Linked DNA regions of Homo sapiens: region 1 is linked to region 2. The links come from fine-mapping of genetic effects on gene expression. A gene starts in region 2. The other region holds a variant in brackets. All regions are shown on one strand. Distances are between the middles of the regions.

Region 1 (10,396 bases), 59 kb after region 2:
TTTTGTTTGAGGTGGTTGAAGATAGGGCCCCAATCCCTTCTAGCTTGTAGGGTTTCTGCTGAGAAATCTGTTAATCTAATAGGTTTTCCTTTGTAGGTCACCAGGTGTTTCTGTCTCACAGCTCTTAAGATTCTTTCCTTGGTCTTAACTTTGGATAACCTGATGACAATGTGCCTAGGCAAAGATCTTTATGTGATGAATTTCCCAGGTGTTCTTTGTGCTTCATGTATTTGCATGTCTAGGTCTAGCAAGGCTTGGAAGTTTTCCTCAATTATTCACCCAAATATGTTTTTCAAGTGTTTAGAATTGTCTTCTTCCTCAGGAACATCAAGTATTCTTAGGTTTGGTCTTTTAATCCTAGACTTCTTGGAGGCTTTGTTCATATTTCCTTATTATTTTTTCTTTGTCTTTATTTATTGGGTTAATTCAAAGACCTTGACTTCGAGCTCTGAATTTCTTTCTTCTACTTGTTCAATTCTATTGCTGAGACTTTCCAGAGCATTTAGCATTTCTAAAAGTGTGTCCAAAGTTTCCTGAATTTTTGCTTGTTTTTTTCATTTACTTTTTTTTTTTTTTTTTTTTGAGACAGAGTCTCACTCTGTCTCCCAGGCTGGAGTGCAGTGGCGCGATCTTGGCTCACTGCAAGCTCTGCCTCCCAGGTTCATGCCATTCTCCTGCCTCAGCCTCCCGAGTAGCTGGGACTACAGGTGCCTGCCACCACTCCAGCTAATTTTTTTGTATTTTTAGTAGAGAAGGGGTTTCACTGTGTTAGCCAGGATGGTCTCAATCTCCCGACCTTGTGATCTGCCTGCCTCAGCCTCCCAAAGTGCTGGGATTACAGGCTTCAGCCACCATGCCTGGCCCTGTTTTTTTCTTTAAGCTATCTATTTGCTTGAATATTTCTCCTTTCACTCTTGTAACGTTTTTTTGGATTTCCTTGCATTGGGCTTCATATTTCTCTGGTTCCTCCCTGATTAGCTTAATAACTAACCTCCTGAATTATTTTTCAGGCAAATCAGGGATTTCTTCTTGGTTTGGATTCGTTGCTGGTGAACTAGTGTGATCTTTTGGGGATGTTGATGAGCCTTGGCTTTTCATATTAGCAGGGTTGGTTTTCTGATTCCTTCTCATTTGGGTAGGCTCTGTCAGATGGAAGGTCTAGGGCTGAAGGGTGTTGTTCAGAATTTTGTCCCATGGGGTGTTCCTTTGATGTAATACTCTCCCCCTTTTCCTATGGATGTGGCTCCTGTGAGCCGAACTGCAGTGATTGTTGTCTCTCTTCTGGGTCTAGCCACCCAGCAAGTCTACCTGGCTCTGGGCTGGTACTGGGGGTTGTCTGAACAGAGTCCTGTGATGTGAATGATTTATGGGTCTCTCAGCCATGGATACCAGCACCTGTTCCAGTGGAAGTGGCAGAGGATGCAATGACTCCATGGGATCCTTAACTTTGGTGGTTTAATTCCCTGTTTTGTGCTGTTGGCCTCCTGCCAGGAGGTGGTACTTTCCAGAAAGCATCAGCTGTAATAGTGTGGACAGGCACCAGCAGTGGGCAGGGCCCTAGAATTCCTAAGATTATATGTTCTTTGTCCTCTGATACCAAGGTGGATAGGGAAGGACCATCAGGTGGGGCCAGGGCTAGGCCTGTCTGAGCTCAGACTCTCCTTGGTCAGGTCTTGCTGTGGCTGCTGTGGGGGATGGGGGCGAGATTCCCAGGTCACTGGAGTTGTGTACCTAAGAGGATTATGGCTGTCTCTGCTGAGTCATGCAGGTTGTCAGGGAAGTGGGGGAAAGTTGGCAGTCACAGGCCTCACCCAGCTTCCAGGCAACCTGAAGGGCTGGTCTCACTCCCACCGTGCCCCCTCAACGGCCCCGAGTCTGTTTCCAGGTGGAGGGCGAGTCAGGCTTGAAAACTTGCCCAAGGCTTTCTGCCTCCCAGCTGTTAAAGAAAGGGCTTTAGTTCTTCTCCGCCTGTGGAGTCTGCAAGCCAGATTCACACCCTCCCTGGAGTTCTGGCCAGGAGTCTTCTTGCCCCGTTCAAATTATCCCAAAGTTTAGCTAGAGAATTCCTTCTCCCTGTGGAGTTTTGCCCCCTGCTCCTCTGGCCACCCTCCTGATGGATCCCTGTGGTGCCAGGCGGGAATGGGCTGCTAGGGGAGCCAGTGAGCTCCCAGGGCCTTTCTGCAGCTTCCTCTACCTTTGTATTTTGCTCGGTTTGGCTCTCTAACTTGACGAGGCTCCAGGTAAAGTCGGGAAGTTCTACAAACAGACCTTCAGCTTCTCCAGTATGTGTTCGGGAGATGAGGGTCTCCCTTTCCCACTTCTGCAGTTGGGGCGATCACAGTATTTGGGGTGTCTCCCGGGTCCTCTAGGAGCAATCCACTTCTTTCAGAGGGTCTGTGGGTCCTCTTGGGGTTGCTGGTTAGTTCTTGCAGTCAAGCTGGAGCTAAAATTCACAATGTGAGCCTCTCATGCTGCTCTGTCTGGAGCCACAATCTAGTCCTGCCTCCCGCTCGCCATGATCCTGTCCTCCGTATTTTACTTCTTACACAGATTTTCAAATAACTCCCCTGTTTTAAGTCTGACACTTCATCCCACCTTCAGCTGTATTCAAAGCCTGCAATTTCTCAGCCTTCAGGAAGGCAACTGGCTTCCTTCCTGTTGGGACTTGCCTCTTAAGTTTCACCCTTCTCAGCCTACTATGTCAGTCACTGTTATCTTTTAGCTTCCTATACTATGTAGTTCATGGTTGCAATGTCTCTTAGTTTCTGAGATGATGGTGCTTGTGTGTGTTTTTCTCATCGCCTTGTTTTGGGGTGACTTCCAAGAGGTGAAAGGGAAGAAGGTCTTTATCACCTTAGAAAAACTCCAGAGTCCCTGTTCTTAATAATTAATATGTTACACTTCTGCCTGGACAAGGCTCCACCTGTTTGCTTTACAGAAGAGGCCCTTCATCCTTCTGTGTATTCTCACATCGTAGCCAAAAGGACTGTCTAAAAATGCCATCTCCCACATTGCTCTTCCATGTAAGGCCCTTTAGTCATGGCTTGTCATGTTCACATTTGAGTCTCAGCAGAGTAAAGCCCTTGCCACCTGACCCAGCCCCTCAGCTTCACCTCCTGCCAGACTGCTTGCAGTTCCCAGTGTGCTGGGTCCTTCATCTCACTGCTCACGTGATTTTCCTGCTAGCCAGAAGCCCTTCTTTTCTTGCCTGGCTGCAGAACTTCTCCGTACTCTTCAAAGCCCACCTTCCCTGGCGAACCTTCCTGATTCTGCTCCCCTTCCCTCTTTCTTTTGGCCTCCCTCTGTCTTGGGCCCCAGTCATATTGGCCACTCTCCACTCTGTGCTGCAACAGATCCATCCATTCTCTTTTTTGAACAGAATGAAGCTGATGCAGAGACAGAAATTTTAGGCTAGAAGGGACCACAGAGGTTATCTAATTCTGGGGGGACGCAGTCAACACTAGAGGTAAGTTGAATCTATTCAGCTTTTTCAGGGTTCTGGCCAATATTATTTCTCCTTCCAAATATCATGGTTCTATGTGTGGCCCCTGGAACTCTTTTTTGGTTCCCTTTCTGTCTTCCTCCTCCCACACTCCAGCAGGTGTCATAAAGCCTCATTGAGACCCCTGTACTGGAGCCTTGTCCAGTACAGACTGTAGCTTCAGTCTGTAACTGGAGGAAAGAAACACTGAGCTTTAGCAATATCATGCTCCAATAAATAACTTTCCCTAGATGACATTGTTTTTAGGCAACTACAAAAACCGAATGGGAGCTGACAACCATACACTGCAAGAAATGAATCAGAATGGCCTTTCATTACAAACAGTCGCTTTGAAAGCAAAGGCCCAAATACAATGCGGGAAGACGGCAAAATAGAAAATATTCACTATAATATTTTAAAAATCACTTAAGTCAGTAGCTTTGCTATCCCATCCCCTACTCAACCTCAGATGAGAGTGATTAACTAAGTAGAATGTTTTCCCTTATTTCTTCCTTTGTGTAAGTGGGCAGAATTTTCATTGATTCATTCAACAAATATGTATGGGGTACTTATTATGAGCTACACACTGTTAGGCATGGAAAGTGATAATGATAATAATGGCAACATGTGTTGAGAATTTACTAAGTTCCAGCTACTATGTGGTTTATATATATCATCTCAGGTTGTCTTCATAGACCCCATGTGAGGTAGGTACTATTATCTCCTTGTTGGCTGACGGGAAGCTGAGATTTAGAGAGGTTAACTATCCTGCTCCAATGCCAGAGTCAGAATGCAGGCCGACTAACTCCAGAGTACTTGCTCTCAGCATTACTTTAAGTACCTGGGGCCAAATCTGAACCACTGACCTGAGCAGGGCTGGAAGCATTCTCCATAGCCCACTGCTCTACTAGAGAAGCTACTGAATATGGTTAAGAAGAGGGCAGAGAAGCACAGTGGCTTCTACCTCCCAACACTGGCCCCAGATTCTCCTGATGAGCTGGGCCATATATGTCTGTGGATGGGTGTCACTTGGTTTAGCTGTTCTGCTAAGGCAGAGGTTGCCTCCCTGGCATCCAGTGCTTGGGGGTCGCTGGTGGGGTTAGTCCCTCCAGCAACAGCGTATTCTAGGCAGCTCTAAGGGTGAAGAAGTTCCTGATTACATTGATCCAGGCCCTTCCCCCATTCATTCTAGTTTTTATCCAATTCTTTTTTTTTTTTTGCAAAGTCTTTTTGATATAATCTTTCCCTACATCCCATACAATCTGTACTTTCTACTTCCTATGATGACCTATGATTAAATTTAAAAAAATTTGCATAGATCTCCTGCTTGTCTAATGACATATGATTGTTTTCTTTCTTTCTTTCCTTTTTTTTTTTTTTTTGAGACAGGGTCTTGTTCTGTCGCCCAGGCTTGAGTGCAGTGGTGCAATCTTGGCTCACAGCAACATCTGCCTCCTGCTTTCAAGCGACTCTCCTGCTTCAGCCTCCTGAGTAGTTGGGATTACAGGCACGTGCCAACAAGCCCCGCTAATTTTTGTATTTTTAGTAGAGACTGGGTTTCTCCATGTTGGCCAGGCTGGTCTTGAACTCCTGACCTTGAATGATCTGCCC[G/A]CCTCTACCTCCCAAAGTGTTGGGATTAGAGGCATGAGCCACCGTGCCTGGACTGATGACCTATAATTTAAAAAAATCTTTAACTGAAGGTTTTTTTTTGAGATAACTTTGATCTTTTATTATACTTTTTATAAATATTTTCCAAACAGAACTCAGGGGTGGGGAAGCACTGGCAAATAGGAAGTCCAGGGGTCATTCAAGATTATGCATTAAATCATAGTATATTTTGAAGTTGTAAAACCCCAGTGAAATTGTCTTTGTTTTCCAGTATTTGAGACAACAGTAAGAGAAAAACTGGGAGAGTGCATGCATGTGTGTATGTGTGCATGTGTATATGTGGATATGTGTGGGCCTGAAGACAGCTACACACAAACATATTTATTTTCGTCCAGTCCAAAGGAAGCTCCCATTAGAACATACAGAAACAACACACACTCCCCAGGAGATTTTCTAACTGACAAAGGAGTGCCTTTAAGGTAGAGAAGAAAAGCCCAGCAGAAGGGTCCCATATGGATTTCTGGATTTTAATAGAGAGACATGCTATCTTGGAGGCCACGTGGAATATTAATGTGAAAAAAATTCAATAATGACATGAACAGAACTGCTGTGGAAAATACCCTAACCCAACTCACTGCTAATGATGATCCTCGAGAATCTATTGAATATGCCAAAAAATCAGAATAATATGTGCTAAGCCCAAACATTTTGGGGAAACATTTTAGCTCCCTCAACTCAACTACACATTTTTCAGGGGCAAGGATTTAGAGGTTCAGTCCACAAAATCTGTTGATGCCTATGATGTGTCATTTACAGATCTTGGTGCCGTAGATCTGGTAGTGGACAGAGCCCCTGCTCATATGCGGCTTTCATTTAATTGGGGCGAGGGGGGGCAGACAATAATCACATAAACCTTTACTATGTCAGGAGTGACAGGTGCCATGAAATGCAGTGACAAGCTGGACAGTGAGGGGCAGATGATATGTTTGATTATTAGCAGAAGAGGCCTGTCTTCTAATGAGGCAACATCTGGGCAGAGACTGAGTAAAGTGAGGTGAGAGAGACCTGGGGGAAGAGCATCTGACACTTCTTTCTGCGTCACACGGCAGCTGGTATGTTAGGTGAGTACAACAGGTGCTTATCAATAGCAATTTATCAACTTAGTGATCCTTTGAGTTTAAACTGACTGAATAAAGGAACTAGAATCTGGTGAAAGGGATTAGAATCTGGTGAGTTTACTGCATTGTCTAGTACAGTGGTTCTCAACTAGGTTAGCATTTCCCTGCCAAGAGACATTTGGCAGTTTCTGGAGACATTTTGATGATCATGACCTGGGGAGGTGGGGAGGTTACTACTGGCATCTCGTGGGCAAAGTCCAAAGGGTGCTAAACACTCTACAATGCACAGAATAAGTCCGCGCGGCAAAGAATTAAAAGCCCAAAATGTCAGCAGTGCCACCATTGATAAATCCTATCTGATACCAGATCTCTGATGAGAGTTGAGGGACTGGGCAGGAGGAGCTCTTGAGAACAACCCCATCGAGAGCTGAACATCTGCAAACAGGGCAGATCCAAGGCCATTGGAGATGCCCTGGGGCATCTGTTCCCAGCTTGGTGACAGACTTGGCTGGCTGGTTTCAAAGTCACACAGAGATTTATTTGTTAAACAGCATTAAGTAAAAGTTTCCTGTATGCCTTCGGTATAACAGAAAACAAGGAGACAAGATGTGGTTCCAGCCATCAAAGATATTACAGCCAAGGAAGGATGGGAGACATGAACACAAACTCCTGCAACATGACAAGGGCCACAGAGGGTAGAAATAAAATGACGTAGGGGAGAAGAGTAATGACTTTTGTTGGAGTGACCCAAATATGTTTAATGTATGAGGTATCATTTGAACTGGGCTTTGACACTGGCTTTTAGTAAGCAGAGGGGGAAATGCAGGATATGCTAGGTGGGGAGTAAGATGTGAAAACAAGTAAAAAGGCAGGAAATAATCATCATCATAATAATAATATTAACTCCCACCTACTAAGTCCCCTCTATATGGTAGGTATAGTGCCAAGTACTTTATCATGATAATTGTATCCTAAACTCAAAACTGATATATGCAAATCAGTTGAAGCCTAGCACAACCCAAAGTGACTTGAATTTCCATCTTACCCATTTCAAAATGATAGTAAAACGGGGGGAGTGTTACCTGTGGTGAGTTGCATAAATACCGAAGCAGTTCACCGATATACTGAATGACAGTGACGTTGTATTTTCTGCAGTCATCCCAAAACTGGCTGGCTGAAAATTTAGTCCGCAAGGCAAGAGTAGCACCTACAGAGAAAGCACAGAAAGTGTCAAGAAAGAAATGGTGGAAAAAATTCTCCCAGTTATGTTTAATTTGTCAACTTTGAACGGTAGAAATTTAAAAATAAATTATATTTGCAAACAAGTATTGAGTACCTTATATTCAAATGCAAAAAATTAGTAAGACATGGTTTTGTTCGATAGGGGCTTCCAATCTATGGAGGAGAAGACTCATACAAAGGTCATTTTAATAAAAGTTAGCTTGCAGTAAGAGATTCAAATGAAGTCCTAAGAGGGAGGGAGGGGAGAGGGAAAGAGATTTCATGCAATATATATATATATTATATTATATATATACTAAATATATGTATAAATAGAGTGAGACTCTGTCTCAAGTATATATATATACACACATACATATATATACACACACATACATATATATTATATATATACACACACACATACATATATATGTATTTTATATATATATATTTGAGACAGAGTCTTGCTCTATTTTTTTTTCTTTTTTTGAGACAGAGTCTCGCTCTGTCACCCAGGCTGGAGTGCAGTGGTGCCATCTCGACTCACTGCAACACCCGCCCCCCAGGTTCAAGTGATTCTCCTGCCTCAGCCTCCTGAGTAGCTGGGATTACAGGCGCGTGCCACCACACCTGGCAAATTTTTTGTATTTTTAGTAGAGAAGGGGTTTCACTGTGTTAGCCAGGATGGTCTCAATCTCCTGACCTCGTGATCTGTACCCCTTGGCCTCCCAAAGTGCTGAGATTACAGGCGTGAGCCACCGTACCTGGCCCGGGTCTCACTCTATTGCCCAGGCTGGAGTTCAGTGGTGAAATCTTGGCTCACTGCAACCTCTGCCTTGTGGGTTCTCGTGCCTCAGCCTCTAAGTAGCTGGGATTACAGGTGGACACCATCATGCCTGGCTAATTTTTGTATTTTTTAAGAAGGGATGGGGTTTTGCCACGTTGACCAGGCTAGTCTCAAACTCCTGACCTCAAGTGATTCGCCCACCTCAACCTCCCAAAGTGCTGGGATTACAGGCATAAGCCACTGTGCCTGGCCCATTCATGCAATATTTTAAATAACTTTGTGCATAAAACAAAGTTTGTGTTAAGTACTTATGTGTAGTATTTTCCACTTGTGGTGTCCTGGTGCTTAAAAAGTTACAGATTTTGGAGCATTTTGGATTTCAAATTTTTGGATTGTGTGTGTGTGTGTGTATGTGTGTGTGTTTGAGCTGCTATAACAAAATAGTACAGATGGGTGGCTTAAACAACATTTATCTCTTGCAGTTCTGGAGGCTGGGAAGTCCCGATCAAGGTGTCTGGTGTCTGGTGAGGGCATTTTTCCTGGTTTGGGGATGGTCATCATCTCCCTGTGTCCTTACATGGAACAGAACAGAGTCAGGAAAGAAGCTGGCTGTCTCCTGTTCTGATAAGGGCACTACCTTTCATGAAGGCACTACTCTCATGACCCAATTACTTCCCAAAGGCCCTACCTGCTAATACCATCATATTGGGGGTTAGGATTTCAACATATACATTTTTGGGGGACACAAATATCCATCCATAACATGCATGCATATACACACACGCATATATGTGTGTGTATATACATATGTGTATATATTTTTATATATACATATATGATTATTTAAAATGAAATGCCACATGAGAGAAAAAGTTGTTTATTTAGCTCAGTCAGAAAGTTACATATAGCTTCCTGGAAGAGTTGGCTATTGAACTTTGCGGTAATGTATACAAGTGACATGAATCCTCCTGGAAGGAGAGAGGATGGCAACTCCAATTTGAATAGTAAAGTCTGAGAAGGAAACAGAAGAGATGGCAAGCCAAGCCAAGCCAAGTATTCTGATGGAGTTGCCATCTTCTCTCCTTCTAGTAGAGCTGAAAAGCTGTGGAAATGGGAGATTACAGAAGAGTGCACACAACTGCAGAAGTTTAAAGCTGATGGAGATTAACATGCAAGTTTCTAAAGATGGAAATGACATGACATAGAATCTAAGACTCAAGTGTCATAACCTAAAATTTTTTTTTTTACAGTCAAGGTCTCACTCTGTCACCCAGGCTGGAGTGCAGTGGTGCAATCACAGCTCACTGCAATCTTGAACTCTTGGACTCAAGCAATTCTTCTACTTCAGCCTCCTGGGTAGCTGGGACTACAGACTTGAGCCACCATGCCTGGCTATATATATATATATATATATTTTTTTTAGAGATGAGGTTTGCTATGTTGCCCAGGCTGGTCTTGAACTCCTGGCCTCAAGCAATCCTCCTGCCTTGGCCTCCCAAAGTGCTGGGAATACAGGTGTGAGCCATTGCACCCAGCCCTAAAATATTTTAAAGGAGTTTGTCTCTTGATATACTGAACAATTATAGCATTACATTATTAGATAGGCAGGCATGAAAAACAGATTATTTTAGATGCTTGCTTGTAATATGTGATTCAAATTGCCTTATTGTTAATGCAAAATTGAAAACTGTTCCTAGCAGACAGCAACGTAGCCAAATTTTGTATTACTGTTCCTTCTGGGAAAATGTAAATGTGCACTCGCCTCCAACATTTTGTAGAAAAAGCTTACCAGCCACAATACATCCGTGAATGCCAATCAGTAGTGCAGCACTGTGGTAAAAGGGCAGAGTGATATAGATGACATCATCTGCCTTCAATCCGCTTACAAAAGTGAGGCCAGTTCCATACCATATGCGCTGATGAGTGATCATGGCTGCTTTTGGAAGACCTTTGTAAATATACAAGAGAAGGCATGAGTTAACCAAGATTGGGCATTTACAGTGTAGGAGAGAGATCTGGCTTAGGAAGATTCATCACCCTGTATTTTGAGAATTGCACTGGGAAGGGCCATGACCAGTTAGTCCAGGAGTTGACAAATGTTTTCTATAAAGGACCAGGGAGTAAATGTTTTGGGATTGTGGGTCATACAATCTCTGTTGCAACAACTGAACTCTGCTA
Region 2 (10,396 bases):
ACCAGGTTGTTGTAAAGACTGAATCAAATAGTGTGCATGAAAATTGCAAGGCATAGTGCTCAGGACATAGTTAACATTCTTAAATATATGTTGAGGAATGGTGTGCACCTGAAAATTCCTATAAAAGCTGCAAATATACATGCCTTTTGATCCAGCTGTTCCACTTCAGGATATCCTTACTCATGTGTGCAAAGCAATTTTTTGTAGAAATGTTTGTAATAGCAAAAGACTGGAAACAACTGAAATGTACACTGCTAGGGAACTGATTACTCTCTGGTATGTCCACGCAATGCAGCTCTATGAAAAAAAGGAGTACGTGTCAAGATATATTAACAAATAAAGTACAGAATATTGTACTGTACTTATCCCTTTTGTGTTTAACAAAAGAAAGAAAAGGAGAAAAATTAGAATATAGTATATATTTGCCTTTATGTGCAAAAAAAGGAAATCACTTTTTGTTTTTTTTGAGACAGGGTCTCATTCTGTCACCCAGGCTGGGGTGCAGTGGCGCTATCACGGCTCACTGCAACCTCAACCTCCCAGGCTCAAGCGATCCTCCCGCCACAGCCTCCCAAGTAGCTGGGACTACAGGCACACGCCGCCATGCCCAGCTAATTTATTTATTTATTTTTGGTAGAGATGGGGTTTCGCGATGTTACCCAGGCTGGTCTCAAACTCCTGAGTTCAGGTGATCCACCTGTCTTGGCCTCCCAAAGTGCTCTGGGATTACAGGCATGAGCCACTGTGCCTGACCTCTTTTCTTCTTGATGTGAAATTCTTCATAGATTAGACAAATTTGCCCATTGTGCAAATATGTTGCAAATATATTTTCTCAGTTTGTCATTTATCTTGATTTTTCTTATGGTTTTAAAAAAATGTGATTGGATTTATGGTTTCTGGCATTGAACCATAGTTATAAATGTATTCTTTACTCTGAGGTTGTCCAGGGAATCTTCTAATTTTCTTAATTTAATTTTCATCTTTTAAAAACAGCTCTATTGATGCATAATTGATATACAAAAATAGCATATATTTACTACTATTTGATGAGTTTGGACATGTGTACACACCCATGAAGCCATCAGTTAACCTGATGGTGGTGATGGTTTCCTGTAATTTTATGCTTCCATTTTTCACATTTAGATCTGACTTTTCTGGAATTTATCTAAGTGCACGATGTGAAAGATAGATACAGCTTATTTTTCTTTCCAGATGGCTATACCTTGTTCTAGGACAATTTATTAAATAGTCCATCTTTTTCTTTCTGATCTGAGATGCTATCTTTATTATATGCTAAATTTCTGTACATGTTTAAATTTATTTGCTCCTTTTGTTTGTCTCTTTGTACACCAGTATCTACCTCATTGTTCTAATTATTCGAGCTTCAGGATACATTTTAATACTTCTGGGTAGGAACAGAACCTTCTCGTTACTCTTACAAAATTTTCTTCTTTATTCTGGTTTATTTTTCCTAAGAACTTTAAAAGTTGGCACTGAATTCCAAAATAGAACACCCAAAAACCTGTTGATTTTTCCACTGGGATTATGTTAAATTTTCGGGTTAACTTAGGGGAAAACCATTATTTCATGATGTTAAATCTTACTCCATGAGAGAGCATGGTACGTCTTTTCATCTGTACAGGTCTTTTTTTATATTGTTCAGTAGCAATTTAAAAAAATCATCCACTATGTTCAATGAAATAAAAGGCCAGATTTAAAAATTTGGCAAGGAGTTGAAAACTATAAAAAGGAACCAAATAAAAATTCTTTTTTTGCCCCCATAAGGCAGAAGAAATACAAATTCTACAACTGAAAAAATATAATATCTGATATTAAGAAATCAATAAATGGTTTATTATATTAGCTACATTTGAAGAGACAACTAAAAAAGAAAAATATTTTCAAACCAACTCAGAAACAAGAAGATGGAAAATAAAGAATACAATGCTATTTATATTTATATATAATAGTATATATAATACACAAGTTTAACATAGGACTGCATTTGCAGAATAGAAGAGAGATAATGGGGAGATAGCAACACTTGGAGAAAAAATAACGAACACTTTTTTATTTAAAGTGCCTAACTTGGCTGGGTGTGGTGGCTGACACCTGTAATCCCAACACTTTGGGAGGCTGAGATGGGTGGATCATTTGAGCCCAGGAGTTCAAGACCAACTTGGGTAACATGGCGAAACCCCATCTCTACAGAAAAACTCCAAGAAATAAAAAACAATAATCATCTGAGTGTGGTAGCACATGCCTGTCGTCCTTGCTACTCAGGAGGTGGGGGTGGCAGAATTACCAGGGCCTGGAAGTCAAGGCTGCAATGAGCTGTGATCGCATCACTATACTTCAGCCTGGTTGACGAGTGAGACCCTGTCTCAACAAATAAAAATAAAAATAAAAATAAAAATGCCTAACTTGGTGCTTGGCACTTTCTAAAATTGACACATAATATTTGTACCTGTTTATGGAGTATATGTGATATTTTGATACATGCATACAATGTGTGTAATGATCAAATCAGGATATTTAAGATATCCATCATCTCAAACATTTTTCTTTGTGTTCAGAACATTCCAAATCTAGCTATTTTGAAATATACAATAAATTATTAACTATAGTCATCCTAATGTGCTATTGAATATTATTGAATTCCATCTAATTATATGTTTGTACCAATTAACCAATCTCTACTTATTCCTCACCCCCAGCTCCCACCAACCCTTTCCAGTCTCTGGTAACTATCATTTTATTCTCTACCTCCATGAGATCAAATTTTTTACCTCCCATATCGTTGTCAATATTATTATTTTTCCCACCCTGGCTCCTAATGAAGGATTTATTGACAATATCACTGGAATCTAAATCCTCTAGGCCATTTTTTCACCAATGCCCTTATTTTCTTAGGGCTTTTTTTTTTCTTAAATCAACAGTTTTATTGAGATATAATTCCCATTCTATAAAATTTCCTCGTTTGAAGTGTACAGTTTAATAGCTTTTAGTATATCCACAGAAGTGTGCAACCATCACCATAATAAATTTTAAAACATTTTCAGCAGGGCGCAGTGGCTCACGCCTGTAATCCCAGCTACTCAGGAGGCTGAGGCAGGAGAATTGCTTGAACCCAGGAGGCAGAGGTTTCAGTGAGCCGAGATTGCACCACTGCAATCCAGCCTGGGCCACAGAGTGAGACTCCATCTCAAAACAAAACAAAACAAAGCAAAATAAAACGAAGCAAAATAAAACAAAACCAAAACCCAACAATTTTGAACATTTTCATCTTACCACCCTGCCAAAAATCCCTGTTCTCCTTAGCCATCAATCTTCAGCTCCCTACCCACTTCTAACCATGAATCTATTTTGTAGATTTGTCTATTCTCGATATTTCATATGAATGAAATAATATAATATATGGTTCCTTGTGACTAGTTTCTTTCACTTAGTATGTTTCCAAGTTCATCCATGTTTTGGTATGTATCAGTACTTCATTCCTTTTTATCATGGAATAATATTCTGTTGTATTGATATACTACGTTTCATTCATTCATCTGAACATTTGGATTATTTCCATTTTTGTCTATTATAATAATTCTGCTATGAACACCCATGTATACGTTTTTGTGTGGACATGATTTCATTTTCCTTGGATATACACCTAGCAGTAGAATTGTTGAGTCATAAAGAACTCTAGGTTTAGCTTTCTGGGGAGCTTCCAGATTATTTTCCAAAATGGCTGTGCCATTTTACATTCCCACCAGTAAAGTATGAGGGTTCTAATTTTTCCCTGTCTTCACCAATACTTGTTGTTATCTATCTTTTTTATTATAGTCATCATAGTCTGTATGAAGTGATTTCTCACTGTAGTTTTTTCAGTAGTAATTAAAAAATTTCCTACCTATTTTAGCCTAAAATTACTTTCCTGACTCTCTTCAAGGAGCCTGCCAGAGAATTCTCTCTCTCGTGCTGTCTCCCTTATGCCTGGGCATAAGCTCTGATAATGCCCTGTCTGGGAAAACTCTTTTGGCCTTCTCAATTTCTATTACATTGAGAGCCCAAGAACCCATGGTCAGTAACAGGCCAATGAGAAGCCTCCTGCATTAGTCTAGGTGAAGGATAATGGTGGCTTGGACCGGAATAGGGTGGTAGTCATGGAAATGGGGAGAATTTGACAGACTAGATTTATTTTGGAAATAGAACTGAATCTGAACAGATTGAATTGGGCAGGGAGCAGGGAAAGTGAAGGGGAAGGAAGACACCAGGTTTATGCCTTCAGCATTTGGGTGGATGAATGGATGGATGAAAGGATAGATGGATGCATGGATGGTGGTTGGATGGATGAGTGGTTGGATGAATGGACGGTCAAGGGGTGAATAGATGGGTGGATGGAAAATGGAGAGATGATGAACTGAGATGGGGAAGACTAGAAGTGGGGCATATTTTTGGGGAAAGACAGTTTTGCAATACGTTAAGTTTGAGGTGCCTCAGAGTCATAAGAGAGGATTTGTCAGAAAGGCAGTTGGATATAAGATTTTGAAGCTCAAAAGACAGGGAGGGCCTGATGGTATGTTTAAACCTATACGGATATCACATAGGTAACATTTCAAGCCTAAGAAATGGGCCGGGCGCAGTGGCTCACACCTGTAATCCCAGCACTTTGGGAGGCTGAGGCGGGTGGATCACTTGAGGTCAGGAGTTCGAGACAAACCCAGCCAACATGGTGAAACCCCATCTCTGCTAAAAACACAAAAATTAGTGGGGCATGGTGGCACATACCTGTAGGCCCAGCTACTCAGGAGGTTGAGGTGGGAGAATTGCTTGAACCCGGGAGGCAGAGGTTGCAGTGAGCCAAGATTGTGCCACTGCACTCCAGCCTGGGCGACAGAGCAAGACTCCGTCTAAACAAAACAAAACAAAAAAAGCCTTAGAAATGGGCAATGCCACCAAAGCAGAAAGATGAAAGGAGGGCAATGCCCTGAGGTGTGCCAGCATTGGAGGAAACAAACAGCCAGAGATGTAGGAGGAAAGCCCAGAGAAACTGTGAGCTGCAAGGATGAAGTAGTAACAAATAAAATGCCACCAAGAGAACCAGAAGGACGACTGGAAACAAATAAACAAGAAAGACTATTGCATTTAGCAACGTGAAAACGTTGGATTACTTTTTACTCAGAAATCAAACCCCAAGGATAGTGTTTCCCCTCCCTACAGGGGTTTCTGCAGGTCCCTTTACACGCCCCCCTTCTACTTCTTTAAGTGCTAAAAGTGATTAATTTGGGGTGATGTTTTAATTTCTATTCTTTTTGGCTTATAACTGTGTTTTTTCATTCTTTGCAACAACAGATAGTATGTTGTAATAGAAAAATCCATTGTGGTCAATGATAACTTCTGCCTGTTCCTGGGCACAGGGGGCATCACTATTAGTGCCTGTTCCTCCCTCCCTACTGCTGATAAGGAAACAGGGGCAGGAATAATACTAATAATTTGTGCTACTTTTTCTGCATACCCTTGGCCTTATTCTGGTCTACTGAGCTGGGAGCTTGTCTGAGGCTGGAGCTCTATTGTCTGAATCCAGGGGCAGAAAGAACTGAGGGCTCTTTTACGGCATCCACCTGGAGGCTGCCTGCAGGCTTGGGTTGCTAAGTGCACTGCTTAATTTAGAAGCGCCTTTTATCCTGGCTCTCTTGACCAGTCAAAGTTGTGGTCGCTGTTTTCTACAAGGACTGGGGAAAGAAAGGGTGGAATTAATTAAACCTGGAGGAAGGGACTTTGAAGGGCGGAGCTAAGGTCAAAGAAAGAACCCTTTAAATAAAGGGCCCACACTGGCTGCCAGGGAGTGCGCAGGACTGGCAAGAGGGAAGCCGGGCTGCTCCACGCCTTTCACGCCTTCCACCTCCTGCGTGTCCATCTGTGAGAAGGAGCCAGAGCCCAAGGGAGATGATGGAGCCTGAGGAGTACAGAGAGAGAGGTGAGCAACGGGCATCCCTGGCCCTCTTCCCTGCTGCTACTCCTGCAGGAACGGCTGCTGGTGGGTGGCCCTTAGATTCTGGGGTGACATTTGATGGGAGCATTAGAATTGCCTTCTGAGAGTTGGCACCAGCAACATTTTTTTTTCTGCGAAAGGAATGTGGGATCAGAGTGTAAAACTTTTCTCAACCACTCTTTCATTCTCCCTCTCATATACCCACTCTCACATATGTCCACACTACCGTGCCTTGCTTTTCCTCCCCACTTTCCCACAAAATTGAGGATTTGGATCCCTGAGCCACTAGATGGGAAAAGGGGATTGTTCATATTCTGAAATAGAAAAAAATTTTCTCAATATTCTGTAATCACTGCAAATCCTTTCTTTCTTAACATTCATTCCTTCATGTGTGAATCTATCAGCAGTGTTCTTTCATTTAGTCATTCATTTCATAAATATTTAGTAGGTGCCTACTCTGTATCAGGCAAAACCAAGTGGTTATCCAGTTCTCAGGCATGGATCTCCCTTAGCAGGAAAGTAGGTAGTTGCTTAAAAAAGAATCTTGAATGTCTATTTCTATAATGTTTTATATCCTCCTACTCACTAATTAGTGTGCGTTAGCTTATTCCATTGCTTTCCTAAGGCACTGTCAGCTGAGAGCAAGTTCCTGTGGATATTTATCTTCTGAGTGGAACACAAATACATTTAGCACTGTTCCTGGATCAGTGGAGGGTTAGGTCTAGAGCTCTCAGATCTCTGGTGGGGCCCTGCTGGAGAAGAACCAGGATGTGAGAGGGTTGAAGGGGAGCAGAAGGAAGATAGAATGGTGTGGAAATCTACCTTTGTCTCATAAGTTTTGTCTGGGGTTGGTTCTGTTCTTAAGAACTTTGCATAAGCTGATGCAGAGGGGAGAAACTGAGTCCCCTCTCCTAGGTAAAAGCAGCCCAGGGAGTACTAAGGAATGGATGTTGAGACAGACAAAGAGATATGTACACACACACACATGCACACACAGCAACAGAGGCACTGAAGACTGCAATCTGAAAGAATAAATAATTTGCAATAGTTTCAGAGTGTTCAACTTGACTTTTTTTTCCTTCCTTACTCATATGTTCATTCACTTGATACATTTTTTTTTAGCATCTAAAAAATATCCTAAGCACTGAGGTGTTGATGGAGGCAGCAGGAGGGAGAGAAAGTCATTAAGATTTGGTGCCACATTTCCCAGGCCAGGGCAGGGGGCTTGGTCTGGATCCATGGTTGTGCTTTAGGGATTCTGTGAGCCTCAGAAATTATACACAAAGTTCTGTGTATATGTAAGCCTACAGTTTTAATCAGATTCTTGAATTAAGTCCTCATATGAGTCCAAAAAAGATGAATAATAACTGATTCAATGGGGATGGTGAAAAAATAGATTTTTTTGTCCTTTATCGGAACTGGGCATGGAATCTTTCTATCTGTGCTAACAGATATAACTGGTGGGTGTGTGTGTAACAATTTTTGGATACAAAGAGCTATAGAGTTTCTATTGAACCTATAAAATAGTTAATAGATGTTCTGTTTCTGAGAAGGAAAGAAAGGTAGGAGAGACAATCAAAATTGAAGTGGATAAAGGAAGGGGAAAGAAAATGAAACGTTTCACTTTGGCGCTAGAGTTTTGTGCTTTGGAGATTTTCCTTTTTGTTCATTTGCTCACTTAGAAACTCCCTCCATCATTCATTCACTCCCTCACTCTTTTTTTAAATTCTGAAGATAAGGTCGTGCAGGGGATCAGATCCTACCCTCGGCCCATGAATCTGTCTCTCTCTTTTTTTTGAGTCCAGGCTGGAGTGCAGTGGCACGATCTCGGCTCACTGCAACCTCCGTCTCCCAGGTTCAAGCGATTCTCCTGCCTCAGCCTCCCAAGTAGCTGGGATTACATGCGCCTGCCACCACGCCCGGCTAATTTTTTGTATTTTTAGTAGAGAGGGGTTTGACCATGTTAGTCAGGATGGTCTTGATCTCCTGACCTCGTGATCCGCCTGCCTCAGCCTCCCAAAGTGCTGGGATTACAGGCATGAGCCACTGTGCCCGGCCAAATCCATCTCCTTCTTTACCAAGTCTCTTGGCCCGGACCTGAGAGGGATGGGCACAAATCGGTCAGGCCCAGTCAGGGGATTTCAGCCTGATTTCTCTATGTCACTTCTAGGGAGAGAGATGGTGGATTACATCTGCCAGTACCTGAGCACTGTGCGGGAGAGACGTGTGACGCCAGACGTGCAGCCTGGCTACCTGCGAGCCCAGCTGCCTGAGAGTGCTCCTGAGGACCCCGACAGCTGGGACAGCATCTTTGGGGACATTGAACGAATCATCATGCCTGGGGTGAGACACAGTGACCACAAGGGCAGTTCTGGATTTCAGGGCACAGAAGGGTGGGTGGTGGCCTGGAGAAAGACCTGCTTTGGGTCAGCTTGGGATGAGAATGCATCCTTCAGCCACTTGGCCACCAACACCCCAGCCCATCTGCTAGGCATGTGGAGGGCAGGACTTTGACTGGTATTAGGTTTCTTTTTCTTTTTTTTTGCCCAGTTGTGCCATGGCATGAGGTTTCTGATGCCAGGGCAGGGCTGGCCAGAACACCTGCATTCCAGAGCACAGCCTGGCAGAAGTGTGGAAGTCTAATGGGATGGGTGGAGAAGTGAACATTTTGTCTGAGGGGAAAGGACAACTGTGTATAGTAAGACAGGGGAGAGGAAGCTGGTGGTAGTGCCTGGCCCTGACGACGGAGCCAGAGACTCTTCTGTACAGTGTCTGAGACCACACCAAAGAGAAGGAAGGAAGTGGGGAACACATCCTGGCAAGGACACGCTGGTGACCAGGTTGCGTTGGCCCAGGAAACTGAGTGGGCCCTGGCAACCCCTCCTGTCCCCTCTGAGGTCTGGTGATTGAGCTGCTTTTCAAGAGCAAGAAGGGACTTTCCCTGAATCATTGATACTTTCCATGATGGAGGGTGCAGCCTGGGATAGTGCTGGTGGGGCCAGGAAGCTGATGGAAGCTGGCTGATGCATGGGCTTGAGCTGGAGCCTGCCTTGATGGGTGGTGGACACCCCTGACCACTGGCGGTGAGGAGCTCTGCCATGGTGCTCATGCTAAAGTGGCATCGACTCCCTTCCTGTGGCGGGGCTCCCTGCCATGTGCCAGCTCTGTGCTGGCCACATGACATGCTATCTAATTTAATCTTCCCAGTGGCCCTGTTTTACAGATGAGGAAACTGCTGATGCTCAGAGAAGTTAACTGTCTTGCCCAAAGTCACAGAATTAGTACCTGGTAGATCCAGGATTTTACCCTAGACCAGTCTTACTTCACAGGCTGTGCCGTTTCTCCTACCCTCTGTCACCTCTACTGGTGGGTGCCTGAATGTGCCTGGCTAAGCCTGGGCCCCTAGCATTGCCTGTCTGGCTCCACACCCCCACACAAGCTGTGTCTTCCCTCTCCCTGCTTGGGGCATTTGTGTTCTGAACCACACATGTTTAGAGGCTCTTCCTGAGGCCAGCTTGAGGTTTGCCTTCATCATTCCCAAAGAACTTTTGACTTCAATGTGACAAAAAGGCCAGGCGCGGGGGCTCACACCTGTAATCCCAGCACTTTGGGAGGCCAAGGCAGGTGGATCACCTGAGGTCGGGAGTTCAAGACCAGCCTGACCAACATGGAGAAACCCCGTCTCTACTAAAAATACAAAATTAGCTGGGCATGGTGGCACATGCCTGTAATCCCAGCTACTTGGGAGGCTGAGGTAGGAGAATCGCTTGAACCCGGGAGGCGGAGGTTGCGGTGAGCTGAGATAGCGCCGTTGCACTCCAGCCTGGGCAACAAGAGCGAAACTCCATCTCAAAAAAAAAAAAAAGTGACAAAAATATGCCTAGAGGCAGGGGTGGGAAAATATTCAAACTCAGAAAGTGATGGCAATTTTGACTTTTTTTTTTTTTTTTTTTTGAAGCAATAGAGACAAGGTCTTGCTATGTTGCCCAAGCTGGTCTCCAACTCCTGGGCTCAAGTGATCCTCCTGCCTCGGCCTTCCAAAGTGTTGGGATGAGAGGCCTAAGCCACTACGCCTGGCCATGAGGGCAATTTCATACAAAGCCACTCATCTCTTTGACCATTCAGCCTATTTCACAAGCATTTTTTGAAAATGTCAATATCAGTAAGGCTTTACGGAGGCTAGATCCTGATAAGATTATCTCCTGGATTTTATTCTGTAAAATGTAATCTGCTGAGGGGCTAACTGTAATCTGGGAGTGAGACTGAAAGCAACTGTCAGAAGAGGTGGAAATGAGCTGATTCATTTGATCAAGAGGAATTCCAGCAGTTGCTGTGGGTATGGTCGGTGAGGCTCATTTCTGGAAAGAGGTCTGTTTGTTTTTGATAAGGGCTCTTCTGGCTATTTTATCTTAT

What was found.
Region 1: its variant is fine-mapped to the expression of HDC in whole blood (TOPMed, PIP above 0.99).

The regions. Positions count from the first base shown.
Region 1 is chr15:50,202,257-50,212,652 of GRCh38, reverse strand. SLC27A2 (solute carrier family 27 member 2) reads right to left here. Exons shown (of 10, transcript NM_003645.4): 3 at 10,008-10,166; 4 at 7,290-7,414. Among named protein-coding and RNA genes, the nearest start is that of SLC27A2, 25 kb to the right of the region's middle. RefSeq lists an enhancer at 1,317-1,896. The variant G/A (reference allele first, on the strand shown) is at 5,093.
Region 2 is chr15:50,261,165-50,271,560 of GRCh38, reverse strand. HDC (histidine decarboxylase) reads left to right here and starts at 5,835. Exons shown (of 12, transcript NM_002112.4): 1 at 5,835-5,968; 2 at 8,154-8,326. The coding sequence starts at 5,938.